Homo sapiens: one gene and its partner. The protein of the gene in region 1 interacts with the protein of each later gene in a pairwise test. Each region holds a gene or a part of one and is shown on either strand. Other genes may lie near its edges.

Region 1 (7,380 bases):
AAAGGCACACCACAGGGCCAAAGCCCCCAAGCCTTTTGCCCACACTGGGCAATATCAGGAGCCCCTGCCCCAGCAGGGCTGGGACCTCCACAGTGAGAAAGCCCAATTCCGGCTTTAATGCATAACAAATCACTTCAGTCAACTGGGGTCAGGGCAGGGAAGGGGCTTTCAGAAGGAACAGTAGGGTCTCACTACACCAACCCCCGGCCTCCTCTACTGACAGGATGGGGCCGCATCCCTCCCACCTCTCAGCTGCCCTATCTCCCCCGCCTGTCCAATACCCCATCTCAATAATGGGCTCATATCAGGCAGGGCCAGGGTTCTTCTCTTCCCATAGGCCAACACACTATAATATTTGCTTTCCTTCCTTCCTTTCCAAAGCCTACCAGATTAGATTGCTGGAGTCCCATCCAGCTCACTGAGACAGATGGAAAACGGAAAGTAAGGCAACCCAAACTGTTCATGGTGGAAAAAGAGAGGGGGCAGAGCAACCCAACGTCCCAGCACCCAGATCCTCTTTTCCAAGCCCTAGGTCTATCACAACCGGAATAAGTCGAGCCACAGCAGTTTCCGTGAATCAGAAGAGATATTCTGATGCACTGTGGTCTGCAGCAAGCTCTCATCTGAGTCATCCAGCCTTTCAGCAGGGGCATCACCCACCTGTCCATCTGTCCCATGAATTGGACAGGAGACCAACGCTGCTTGGGTCTTCCTAGTATCCTAGCACTTCGGCAAACACTTGGCAAGGTAGTGGGAGGGCTGCTCTGGGGCTCAGCTGATAGGGCTCATCAGCCTTCCCCTTCCCACTTCTGCAGAACAAAAACCTGCACCAACCAAAACCTGCATGTCTTCAAGATTTATTTTAACCACTCAAAAATACCGAGCTGAATATGGTTCAGCTCACTACCATGACATGATGGGATCTGCAGGCCCTATTTCCTTAACACAGAAGAGAGAAGAAAGCACCAATGACAAGGAAAAAGAAAGGGTTGCAAAAACTCTTCACCAAAGGGCAGGCAGTTTCTCAATCAATACCAAGGTAATTACCAATCTGTGAAATGAGCAAGGCTCCCATTACCAGCTAGCTAAAACCCCACTAGGAGTGCCATAGACAATTTGTAGAAAGCATGCTGTAATGTACAAACAGGGTCAAAGGATACTTAGGTGTAAAGGCAACATCCGGACTAATAACTCCCATGTACCAGCTTGGAGAACCAAATCCCTACAGGTTTGAGGAACAACCACACTGCTCTTTTCTCTGCCATTTGGACAAGTGCAAACAATTCATGTGTTTGCATTCATTCATTAATGCAATAAACATTTACTTAGCACCTGGTACATGTCATACGTTGGGCTGGCCATAATCTAGACTACAAGCTAGACCTCTGATAGTGCAAAAGTCATCTGCCTTCAGGCGGCACATGGTGAAGAGGGCTAATGTCTGAGATGATGATGATGCTTTCTAAAAGCTTACTCTGGCTTCTCAAAACAAGTGGGGGGCTTACAAGTCCTGTAAGCTCGCCAAAGACAGGGTCCAGCCCTCCAGAGGTAAAGGAAAAAGAAAAAATAAAGACAGGGGTTGTGTTTTGTTCATCACTGCCTTGCATGTATAATACATGTCAACTGAATGCAACTGAAATAGAAAGCAAAAACTTCTATTCTTTCAAGATCTTTTGCTTTGCTGTTTCGGAAGGCTTCGCAACCAAAGAAAAAAAATGACAAAAGAAGGGAAAATGGGACTTGGTCAGATAGATTAAGAACACCATTAGTGCAATCTTGGGACTTCAGCCCCAAGTGCATCTACAGCTCAGCCTTCAGAGCCCCCAGAGCCACAGCTGGCTTTCTGGTGGGGTGCTCTCCCCTCCCTCTTCTCTGCCGTTTACTGTCCTCTGAAAACCCCACTTGGAGCCCTAAAGAAAGAAAGGGGGCGGGCAGGAAGAAGGAATGAGAAGGGGAAGATACATCCTGAACCTGCGTTCACCAAGAAGGAAGGAAGCCAAACCCTAAGGCTAGGGCCTGGGGGCAGGGCTGGCCCCGGGGAGGAGATGTGAGGGTGCTCCGGCCGCAGCGGGCCCTGCGCCCCTCTCTGGGCGTGCAGGGACACTTTTCCCTTCTAAACGGCCTAGCTTCCCACCACCCCCCCCCACACCCTTCTTTTCTCTTTCTTTTTAAAAAAATTTTGGTGAAATCGTCTTTAGGACTGGAGGAGAAAAGGGAAGCGTGTAAGGTGAGGAAGAAGTTGGTGAGAGAGAGAACGACAGCTCCCCTCGAGGGCTCACCCAACCTGGCACCGAACCTGCATTTTAGGGCAGTCCTTTTCACTGTCTGGAGTTCCAGAAGCCCGAAGTCCAGGCTGCACCCAGAGGAAAGGACAGGAGTCCCTAGGGGAGCCTTCTAGGCCTGTCATTTAATAAGGTAGTCGGGGGAGTGAAAGAGGAGTCTCCATGGCCCAATCCGTACCCAAGGGACTTGCCTGGGGACGTTCTCTGCTCTCCTCCCCTCCCGCAGCCCGGGCAGTCGTTGCGGGGTCGGTGCCCCAGCGCCAGAACCCGCAGAGAAGTTTCGCTGCTGCAAACGTGAGAAAATGCAGCTCAGCAGAACTCCCGCCCCCACCCTCTCCGCGGCCCCACCCCCCGCAGCCCGACCCCTGGCGGCGGCGACCTTGGCCACCCGGGGCACTTGGAGGAGGGGCTGCCCTCGGGGCTCTCCCAGAGGGTTGGAGGAGGCCTCCAGGGTCTGCGGCCACCTCCCCTCGCCTGTCAGCCACTAGGACCGGCGTATTCAGCCCTGCGCGCGCGCCCCTCGCGCCCCTAGGCCGCCAGGCCTCCGCCGGGGCGCCCCCTGCACCCCCAGCCCCGCCAGCCCCCGCGCGCCCCTCTGCGCCTCTCCACTCCCGAGCCCGCGAGGGCGCCCAACTTACCCCCCCGTGCAGGGGCCGGGGCTCGGGCGGGGCGCGTTACATCGGGCGGGGTCGCCCCTCCGGCCGCCGGGTCCGCCGCGCTCCAGGGATTTCTGGGTCTGCCTGCCAAACTCTCCGCGCCTCTCGCTCCCCTCGCTCTGGTCTCCCCCAGTGCCCCCTCCTTCTCTCCCGTCCCTCGGCTCTTTTTTCCGGGTTAATTACGTTTCGCATTAAAGCAAAACCCAGCCCCGGATGTGAGTACAATGCTCCGCGGAGCCCGCCGGGGAGGGAGAGGGGTGCCGGGGCGCCGCGGGCTGGGAGGGGGTGCGGCCGGGCGCCGGGGCCGCGCGGGGGAGGCGGGGGCGGGGCGCCCGGAGGCTGCGCCCGAGGCCGCCCGCGTTCCGCGCCTGGCAGGTGGGACCTGCGCGCCGAGACTGCCCCGCGGGGAGGCCCGGCCCCGACGCTCGCTCGGGCAGCAGGTGTCCGGGCAGGGGGCGTCCTCGCAGGAGGAGGCGAGCTGGAGCGCGAGCTCCCTCAAGAACCCCATTTCCTCCTCCCAGAGCCCCACCCAGCGACCTCAGCTGGGCCTCCTTCGGATCCCGAGCCCTTAGCCTTTGGGGACCGAGGAGTTGGGGTAAGGGTTAGGGTCCCAAGAAGAGTGGCTTCTTCAGGTTGTCCTAAATGTGCCCTAAGAGACCAGTGGGCGGGAACGCTCTAACCAGGGTTATAAGGACTTTAATTTCTTTATTTTATTTTATTTTTTAATCAAGACAGGGTCTGGCTCTGTCGCCCAGGCTGGAGTGCGGTGGCGCAGTCATAGCTCACTGCAGCCTCGACCTCCTGGGTCCAGCGATCCTTCTGCCCCAGCCTCCCGAGTAGCTGGGACCACAGGCGCCTACACCGTGCCCGTTGGGACTTTTTCGGTGTGATGCGAAGACTCCCTTCCTGCCCCCAGAGCATGAGGGTGCTCTGGGAAAAAATGGGAAACAGACAAGCATGTGTTACTACGTAAACCTCGCCAAGAGGAACTAAGAGAGCTGCTGTGCGCGGGTCCCGCCCCTGCGCTATCTCATTTGATCCACGCCGCAACCTATGGGTACCAGTCCGGTTCACGGTGAGGAAACCGAGACTCAGACTTGTGAAGTAATTTGCCCTGGGTACCCAGTTAGTAAACGGCAGGTCTGTCAGGTTCTGACTCCGGCCTCCCACGTCGGGAGAGAGACATTTGAATATGCATCAAGTCAGGTGGACAACATCCGAAACATGAAAATGTAGAAGATTCGCGCGGGCCTGCGGGGCCGTGCGCCGGTGTCTGGCGATCCTAATGCAAACGTTGTTAATCAGGTGTAAATCCTACGAGGCTTTGAAAGAGGCAGGCATAAGAAGACGCTGAGGTTCTCCAGGACAAGGACTGGATTTGCAGGAAGGAGGGAGAGGCTGGGGCACATTCCCGGTGTTAACAGAGGAAAGGCGGCCTCTTATGTCTCCACGACCGACCGGAGGCCACAAGGCCTGGGGAGGGGGGCTCGGGCCGATGAGCCAGGACCGAGGGAGAAGGACAGCCCGCCCCACACACCCCGAAAGCACCAGTGATGAAACCACACAAGTTTCCTCTTCCATTTTGATTGCCAAAGCAAAAATGAACACCGCCGGTGTCTCAGGTGTGAAAAAAGACTGTTTGCTTTAGAGCATTTTGCTTTCAATGAGGAAGAAAAGGGGGACGATGGGCAAAACACACACACACACACACACACACACACACACACACACACACACACACATTTCCCTTGAAATAAATACATCAATGTCTTTTTTTTCCCCGTTCATGGAGGGTTTTGCCACTCATCTGTAAGTTTCAGGCACCAGAACAAACTGAAGAGCATCTCCTCTGGAAGCAAGGAACCTGGATTTGAAGCCCAGCTCTGCCGTTTACTGGCTTTGACCCCTGGGCAAGTTACTTAACTTCTCAATGCCTCTGTTAGGAAAAGTCAGTGAGTTAACATTTGTGAAGTGTTGAGATTCCTGTCGAACGTGAAGTAGGTGCTACGTAAATGTTTTTTAAATTTAAAAATTAGATGATCATTTTCAGTATGAAAAGCAACACAATTCCATCCAGCTCCAAGCAAATCCGACTGGAACTGAGGGTTTCCAGCATGAGCAATGAGGTAAATTTCTCAGATTTCAGGGTATGGTTCATATTAAACTCATAAAACTCTACTCCCCGTGGGGCTGCCTGAGTCACTCCATCACAGAGCCACAAGTATTTCCTGAGCACTACTGTTTTGGATGCTGGGAGGCAAAGAGAAGCAGAAGGCCTTGGGTGGCAAGAGAATACAGGTGTCTCTAGAAGGCTGAAGCAGGCTTGTGCCCTGGGAATGGCACAGAGAGTAAGTGCTGTCAACTTTTAGAAGGACAAGATATAGCCAGGGGCAGTGGCTCACGACCTGTAATCCCAGCACTTTGGAAAACCAAGGCAGGAGGATCCCTTGAGTCCAGGAGTTCAAGACCAGCCTGGACAACTAGGGAAACTTCATCTCTACAAAAAATAAAAAATATTAAATTAGCCAGGTATGCACCTGTGGTCCCAGCTACTCTAAAGGTTGAAATGGGAGGGTCACTTGAACCCAGGATTTTGAGGCTGCAGTGAGCCATTATCATGCCACTGCATTCCAACCTGAGTGACAGAGTGAGAACCTGTCTCAGAAAAAAAATAAATAAAAAAGAGGGAAATGTGTCTCTGAATGGGGGATGGGGGGTGGGGGGGGACGGTGGGGGAGCTCAAGAAGGGAGTGGGCTTTGAAATGGGACTTAGATGGATACAGTTTGACACCAGTGGGAGGAGGCCAGGAACATGTTGGGCTGAGGGAAGGTCATCATCAGTGCACTCGGGGAGATGCTCATACTTCACTGGAGCCCCATTTACTGCTACACTTGTCCCTGGCCAGGACCTGGCCCCAGTTAGATGACAAATCCTGCACTAATGTCCACTCTCTTATTCCTGGATCTCCCAGGGCTTCCTCAGAGGGACCCCCACCCCCACCCTCCTCTCATGTCACCTTGAAGCAGGCGTCAAGTGAGTCTGTGCCCTGCTATGTTTTGCCATCCCTTTCTCTCTTTTTGGGGGGACACTTTTTTATTGTGATAAAGTATACATGACATAAATTTTACCATTTTAAAGTGTATATGTAGTGGCATTCGGTAAATTCACAATGTTGTACAACTCTCACCACTGTCTAGTTCCAACCGATTTTCATGGCTTCTAAAGTTGACGCCATACCTATTAAGCAGTCACCTCCCATTCTTCTCTTCTCCCAGCCCCTGGTCACCACTAACTTGCTTTCCATCCAGTCTACAGATTTGCCTATTTTTGATACTTCATATAAGTGGAATCATATATATGTGGCCTTCTGTGTCTAGCTGCTGTTGCTGCTTTTTTTTTTTTTTTTTTTTTTGAGACAGAGTCTCACTCTATTGCCCAAGCTAGAGTGCAGCAGCATGATCTTGGCTCACTGCAACCTCCGCCTCCCAGGTTCAAGCGATTCTCCTGCCTCAGCCTCCCGAGTAGCTAGGATTACAGGCCTGCGCCACCACACCCGGCTAATTTTTGTATTTTTAGTAGAGACAGAGTCTCACCACGTTGGCCAGGCTGGTATCGAACTCCTGACCTCAAGTGATCCATCCGCCTCCGCCTCCCAAAGTGCTGGGATTACAGGCGTGAGCCACCGCACCTGGCTGTGTCTAGCTTCTTATGTTTACTTTTGCCATCACTTCATTGACACATTTTGAAAGTACAGTATTGCTGTTGCCTAATTTTATACTTTAATTTTGTTCAGTGCAATAAACAGCCCTGATGTCTGAGAATGTGACTGTACCTGTGGGGAAAGGAATGTCAAAAAAGGACGTTTCATGTGAGCTATTTCAGCCCCCTTGTTGTACCAAGGTAAAATAAAGCTCAACAATTTGCTCAAGGTTTTGAAGCTATAATAGTTAGTGGCAGAGTTGGTTCTAGAACCCAGAGTTGACTACCTTAGAATCTTCTAGTATTGGTATAGAAACCTTGCCACCAAGATGAAAACTTCTGGCCTAGAACCTAAGAATCTCAACAGAAAACCTTATGCACTACTCTAAGCATTTATTTATGTACTTTCTATTCATTTTCAATGTTAATGGCTGGTTAGCTAGATAACCTAACAACCTCCAGTGGTGAGCCAGTGTACCCTGCAGGGAACTATTGTTCTGTCCTCATAGATACCCATTACATAAGGCTGCAGCTGGGGCCAGTTAGTTCTATTAGGGAAAGTGTGGGGCCAAAGAGGCCAAGGTCATTGGTTTGATTCTGGCTCAGGCCAGTTCATTTTGCACAGAGATGGATTGCTCCAGGGCTATACACTGCACCTCTAATGTTAGCCAGTCATTTTATAAATAGTTGCTATGGGTTTTGATAGCAAAGTATGAATAGTTCTGTACCATCCATTTCTAGA
Region 2 (7,023 bases), on another chromosome or scaffold:
TTATCCAGCTTTTCCGATTGTTCTAGGCAGGAGAACCAGTCTGCCTCTGGCCACTGTAACCCACTTAGATGCAGAAGTAGATGTTTATTAAATGCTCATTTATTCCCCCTTTGCTATCTGTTCAGACATAACAGCACATCTTCTAAGTTCCCCTTAGCCAGTTGGCCGGCTTCACCATGTTTTCATTTTCAGGCTCCTGGATTTCCTTACAAGTGTGGGTATTGCTCAGTTTATTCAACCACTGCCTCTTCACTTGCCCTTAAGTCGTAGTGATTAGTGCCAACGCACCAGTCCTCGTCGACTATAAATGTTGTGTAACTTTTCAAATTACATTTTACACATACTCTAAGCCTTAGTCAATCACAGGCTTGTTATTTCATTCCCTGATTTTTCACTTGAAAATTGTTTCTGTCTTCCTCACAGATTATTTTGCTTTATTCAGGTATTTCACTTGCTTTTCCTCAGAAAATGATCACTTCATCAGATAGGCAAGACTTTTCCCAGTCTTTTCTGAAAAATATGTGTTGTCCACCACTCCCGTAAATGTCACTCTTAGATTAATACAGACCACAAGAAAGCTATGTGTTTTGGCAGCATTCTTTGGAGCTTTTATAGATCTATATCTAAGAATTATTCACGTATTTTTAATTTAACAAAGTTAAATAAACATTCATAATTAAATGTAGTTTTCATTTTGAAAAGTTAACACTTCATGGTGCTTACCATGTACCTGACACAGTTCTAAACACTTCACAGCTACTAACTTATTTTATCCCCATAACCATTCTATGAAGTAAGAATTATTATCCCTGTTTTACAGATGAGGAATTTGAGGCCCAGAGAGTAAATGGTAGAGTAGGGATTGAAAGGCTGGCTTCAGGCCCCAAACTCTACACCACTCTACAGCTACATGAAATTTATCAGCATATTGATTGCAGGAGTGCTCTGAAATATATTCACTACTCAATAAGAAGCCACAGACAGCTTCTCCCACATTTTATATCAGGAAAGGCTATGGGGCTCCCTTCTAGCAAAAGTGGATGGTTTGTATTTCTGTGAGCTTATCTAATCCTGGCTGTATTATTGCCCTACTTTTATTTTTCTTTTACCCAGTCCCCTTAATTATTTATTTTATCTTTTTATGCTGTTCCATTTTTCTAAACTGGCATAGCTGTTTTGTGGAATGTGGTAGGAAATAAATATATAAATAAAATTAATTTTTTCCAAGTCTTTATGAGATCAATCTATCCATTGCCAGGAAAATATCATTTCTATTACCAAATCTTGCTGTATAGTCCTAGTTATGTAGCTAGTGACTCACTTTCCACATCCTCATTTCAATTACAAAGTCATGTCTGTGTGAACTAGAAAAAGAAATGAAAATACCACCTAGGTCTTTCAGTTTCCTACTTAAAATGTCAGAGTCTCTGGAGACACATTCCAGAGCTTTACAGTCCATGTCTGCCCTAATTGGCCACAGAAGTTACAGGATTCAAGCCATGATGTGTTCAGCAGGAGTCTAAGTACACAGGCAATGAGCCAGTTGGGCTATAACTGGGTGGGGAGATGGAAAGTGCTTGGTTAAATAGGCAAAGACTCAAGACCAAGAATCCAAGCTGAGAGTGGGGTGATGGCAGGTCAGGAGCCATTCGAGAACAGAATGATGGAGGTTACAGTGTAGCATCTGGGCGGGTGGGGGGGATAGACAGGTGCTAGAACAGCAGCCTAGCGTGAGTCAGTGGGCTTCCTGTGACCTAGCTTTGTCTGTTTCTCTTGCTTCATCTTTCACCTACGCCCCTCGCATCTTCCCCCCAGTCACACTAATAAATGACTGAATGTTCTCCAAATATGCTGAACTGTTTCACACCTCCACACCTTTTTTCATGCTGTTCTCTTCCTTTTGCCTCTGTCTACCTGACAAATATCTACTCATTTTTTTCCAGATCCTGCTTAAATAATTTCGGTATGAAGCCTTTCTTGCCTCCACCACAGCCTATCCCCATTCATCTTTCTTGCCTTTCCACACCCATGTACTTGTTGCCACATCTATCTAGACCTTTTGCACCATAGCTCTCTGATATGAGAAATGTCACATTACTATATTTTTCTAAATCAAATTTAGAAAGCATTGGTTCCCAAGGGCCAGGATGTTGACACACGCAATATCTTCATGGGTGCCTCTACCCCTAGGATCATACCCAGAATCCAAAGAGCTTAACACAGTACAGAAAATGTGGAAAATGACCTTCTGGTCTTCAGCACACCTCCCAGGACAATAGTGAATAGAAGTAGCAAGAGCAGACATCTCTGCCTTGTTTCTGATGTTAGAGGCAGAGAATCCACTCTTTCACCACTACATATGAGGTTAGCTGTGGATTTTTTTATAGAGGTTTTTATCAGGTTGAGGAAGTTCCATTCTACTCCTAGTTTACTGAGCATTTTTATTATGTAAGGGTGTTGGATTTTGCCAAATGTTTGTGTGTGTGTGTGTGTGTGTGTGTGTGTGTGTGTGTGTGTGACGGCATCTCACTCTGTTGCCCAGGCTGGAGGGCAGTGGTGTGATTTCGGCTCACTGCAACCTCCGCCTCCTGGGTTCAAGTGATTCTCCTGCCTCAGCTTCCTGAGTAGCTGGGACTACAGGCACGTGCCACCACTCCCGGCTAATTTTTGTATTTTTTTAGTAGAGATGGGGTTTCACCATATTAGCCAGGCTGGTCTTGAACTCCTGACCTTGTGATCCACCCACCTCGGCCTCTCAAAGTGCTAGGATTACAGGTGTGAGCCACCACGCCCGGCTGCCAAATGTTTTTTCTCCATCTATTGAGATGATTATGTAGTTTTTGTTCTTTATTCTGTTAATATAGTATATTACATCAGTTGATTTGAGGGTATTAAACCAGCCTTAGGGATAAATCCTACTTTGTTGCAGTATATAATTCATTTTATATGTTGCTAAATTTGATTTGCTAATATGTAGTTAGGGTTTTTGTATCTATATTAATAAGAGATATTGATCTATAGTTTTCTTTTCTCATGATGTCATTGTTCTGGCATGGTTCTGTGTACCCACACCTAGTGCTTGGAACATAATAGGCGCTCAATAAATTCTTTTTTTTTTTTTGAGATGGAGTCCCGCTCTGTCGCCCAGGCTGGAGTGCAGTGGTGTGATCTCGGCTCACTGCAACCTCCACCTCCCGGGTTCAAGTGATTCTCCTGCCTCAGCCTCCTGAGTAGCTGGGATTACAGGCATACACCACCATGCCTGGCTAATGTTTTTGTATTTTTATTAGAGACCGGGTTTCACCATGTTGGCCAGACTGGTCTCAAACTCCTAACCTCAGTTGATCTGCCCGCCTCAGCTTCCCAAAGTGCTGGCATTACAGGCGTGAGCCACTGTGCCTGGCCTGAATAAATTCTTAATAGACAAAAAATTCACAAGTAAATGCACGAATCAATGTAAAAATAGAAGATTTAAAATAATACTAATAATCCAAATCCTGAGCCCCATCAGAAGTTACTTAAGCCAACTGAAATGGAGTCCCCTGAAACTTCCTGGTTTCTATCCCTTCCAGGCTTAAACAGGCCATGTCCTCAGAGCAGGGGCAGGTCCAACCCACAATCCACATACACACACACCATGATTTGTATACCATTTATTTCCAACATGATGGATTTTAAGCATCAAGCTGACTTTCCTGCACATTTGGATTTGTTCTTCAGGAAGACAGCACATCTCTAGATAGAAGCAAAATGCTAAGAAAGCATGAACTTCTGAAGGCACGCATAAAGCTCTTGGCACAGTACCTGGTGCCTGATAAGCATTCCTTTAAAGTTTGTAATTATGATTATGACTAATTTTCCCATGCCCAAATCATCTGTCCCACCCCCAAAACCTTCTAGTGAGGATGCATCATGCCTCCCGAATTATCAGTCAAGTCCTACCCCACAAAGAGGTCAGCAACCGCAGGAATGGTACATACCTGTTTTTCTTGGAGCTGTTAACAGGTTTCCTACCACTTGCTGTGCCTACCAGACCTCCTCAGAGCTCCGCACTGCACAGAATGATGACACTGCTTTAAAGTGCAGAGCCTCCCCTACACCCACCCCAGCATGTGTCCCGTGGGGTCTAACTCTCATGCTACAGCAAGTGTTTTCTGTCTCACTGTGTCACTTTCTATTTGTCTTCCACAAGACACTGATAATCCTCTTTCCTCTAAAAATCTTTTCCCCCTTTTTGCCTTTCCTCTTTTATTATTTGTCTCAACTTTTCATATAAGAGTAGCCAGAACTCATGTGTTTTCTTCTATCTTATGTAGCAGGGAGGTTGTTACGGTTTGTACCAGATGTAACTGAAGATCACCCCCAGTAAGAGGACACAGTTTGAGATGATTATGATAGTTCTAACTCCATATTTCCTGGAGTTTTGTGTTTTTTGTTGAAAAGCTACCACAAAAAAAATTGCCTCATTTTCATGGCTCATTTAAAAGGGTACATCTACAAAATCTTCTCAGAAGTCTGGTTGTCTCTTCTTCTTACCCATGCCCTAACCTCTGCCATCACCATGGCACATGGCAAAGTGCCACCCTCTGTTCCATAATAACCCATCATCCACAGAGGCACTGCCCCCAGAATCCTGACTCTTCTTGTCCTGTGATTGGCTGAGATGATCTCAAGGGCCCTGCACCCACCCACCTCTCCCTCTGCTCTTTCTTTATGTTTTTTTTTTTTTTTTTTTTTATGTTTTGAGACAGAGTTTCGCTCTTATTGCCCAGGCTGTAGTGCAATGGTGCAATCTCAGCTCACTGCAACCTCCACCTCCCAGGTACAAGCAATTCTCCTATCTCAGCCTCCCAAGTAGCTCGGATTACAGGCATGCGCCACCACGTCCAGCTAATTTTTTTGTATTTAGTAGAGATGGAGTTTCACCATGTTAGTCAGGCTGGTCGAGAACTCCTGACCTCAGGTGATCCACCCGCCTCAGCCTCCCAAAGTGCTGGATTACAGGTGTGTGCCACCGCTCCCGGCCCTGCTCTCTCTTTCTCCTCCCACTTTGCAGGCTGCTTTCACTGCCTTCTCTCTATCTGTCTGTCTATCTATCAATCATCTATCTATCTTTATTTATTTAATTTTTTGTAGAGTCTTGGTATGTTGCACAGACTGGTCTTGAACTCCTGGGTTCAAGCAGTCTTCCTGGCTTGGCCTCCCAAAGTGCTGGGATTACAGATGTGAGCCACCACATCTGGCCTTACTACCTTGTACCCTCTCTGGACATTCCAGGGATACTGCCCAGTCAGCCCATTCTAATCCCAGTTGTTAGCAAACAACCAGACTTTATTACCCTCAAAAGAAGAACTGAATTTCTACAACAGACAACACCCCATACAAGTCTTGGTTTCAAGACACTGCTTTTTTCTTTTTCCTTTTGAGACAGAGAGGGTCTCACTCTGTCACCCAGGCTGGAGTGCAGTGGTACAATCATGGCTCACTGAAGCCTTGATCTGCTAGGCTCAAGGAATCCTCCCACCTCACCCTCCTGAGTAGCTACGGGTACAGTCACGCACCATGGGCTTCAAGACTCTGTTTTTAAGAATTATAATTCTTAAAAGTCCACATGTATGCTGAATGTGGTAGGCCCCTCTGGGATGAACACCTACTTCAAGTTACAGGGAATTTCTTAACTTTTCTCTCCATTGTTGACCCTTTTATATACTCTCTCTGGCATATCTCAAACCAGGGAGGAAGAGTAGTACATTGTGATATTGATGATTCATGCAGGAAGTCCCTCCCTACCAGGGCCGAAGTTAAATGGCTCTGCCCTCCTCAGCACCCCTGGAAGTCAGGGAAACTTCAATTGGGACTGATCCTCAAACCATGCCATAGACTAAAGATGAACCAGTATTTCTGTATGTCCTTGTTTCAGAAAAGGGAATGGCTGCTGTTAGCCAAGGGGGAACCACCGGGCCCAGGACACAGCCAGAGAATTCCTGCCAGCACCTTCTATGTGATCATGCCGTCACACTCCCTCACACTGCTGGTAAAGGCGGTGGCCACGCGGGAACTGATGCTGCCCAGCACCTTCCCCCTGCTACCTGAGGACCCACATGATGATAGCCTTAAGAATGTGGAGGCAAGTGGAGCCCAGATCTCATGGGACAGATCTAGAAGCGAATGGAGTTTGAGAAAGGGATGAGGGAGAGGAGTGAGCCCATGAGGGAATGGATGCGGAGCTGAAGGAGTGTGGTAAGAGAGTAAGAAGAGAAAGCAAGGATAGGCAATTATGCCAGAAGAAGGAAGTAAACACTTAGATTATGGCAGCAGGGTAAGGAGTGAAATAGAATGGAGGGAAATGAGGTTTGAGAACAAAAAACTGGGAGAGAAAAGGGATATTGGCATCAGTGATGACTGGGAATTAGAGCCATCCTGGAGGACACACGACATGCACACGGACCTGAAATCTGAGGAATGGGTGGCTGTGAAGGAGAAAAGGGAGCATCACAGAGTGGAAACCTGATGTCAGGCCAGGGCACAGGGAGGCAGGGGAGGAAGCCACAACACCAGCAGGTCCAGCTCCTGGGGATGCACTGGACGCTTGTTTGGTTTGGTTTTGTCTTTGCGCAGACTGGTTCTCCTGCCCCCACCTCCTCCCCAGAGAGGAGATTGTGAAGTTAGACAAGGGAGAGCAGAACTTTGGGAGGGAAAGGAAAGAAGACACAGTGGAAAGCAGAAGAAAAAAGAAGGGAGAAGGGAATAAAAGGAGACCCAAAAAATCAGCCTTTGTATGGGTTTTCGTGTCTTTGTGTGTTTTTGTGCCCGAGTGTGTCTGTGGTTGGGTCTCTAAATTGGTGGCAGTGGGTGTAGATGCGCCTGTGCACATCTGTGTGCTGGTGTGTTCTTAGGGGTCTGTCTGCATTGCACGTGTGCATATGTGTATACCTGTGTTTGCGCTCATTTATGTTTGTTGAGAAAAGGCAGCCAATGTAGGTGCCCAAAATAGGAAGGGCTTCAAGATGAGATGTGATAGAT

Evidence for each region. Proteins that work in one complex are often made in the same cells at the same time.
Region 2: the proteins of PLEKHA2 (region 1) and M1AP interact in binary tests that used the Homo sapiens proteins (3 or more experiments, as listed by UniProt).

The regions. Positions count from the first base shown.
Region 1 is NC_000008.11:38,896,986-38,904,365, reverse strand, and holds the start of PLEKHA2 (pleckstrin homology domain-containing family A member 2), read right to left. Parts: upstream 3,021-7,380; 5' UTR 2,921-3,020; intron 2,603-2,920; exon of another isoform or gene 2,297-2,602; intron 1-2,296. UniProt on the Homo sapiens protein: Binds specifically to phosphatidylinositol 3,4-diphosphate (PtdIns3,4P2), but not to other phosphoinositides. May recruit other proteins to the plasma membrane.
Region 2 is NC_000002.12:74,561,321-74,568,343, reverse strand, and holds part of M1AP (meiosis 1 arrest protein), read left to right. Parts: intron 1-5,920; coding exon 5,921-6,127; coding exon of another isoform or gene 6,128-6,190; exon of another isoform or gene 6,191-6,770; intron 6,771-7,023. UniProt on the Homo sapiens protein: Required for meiosis I progression during spermatogenesis.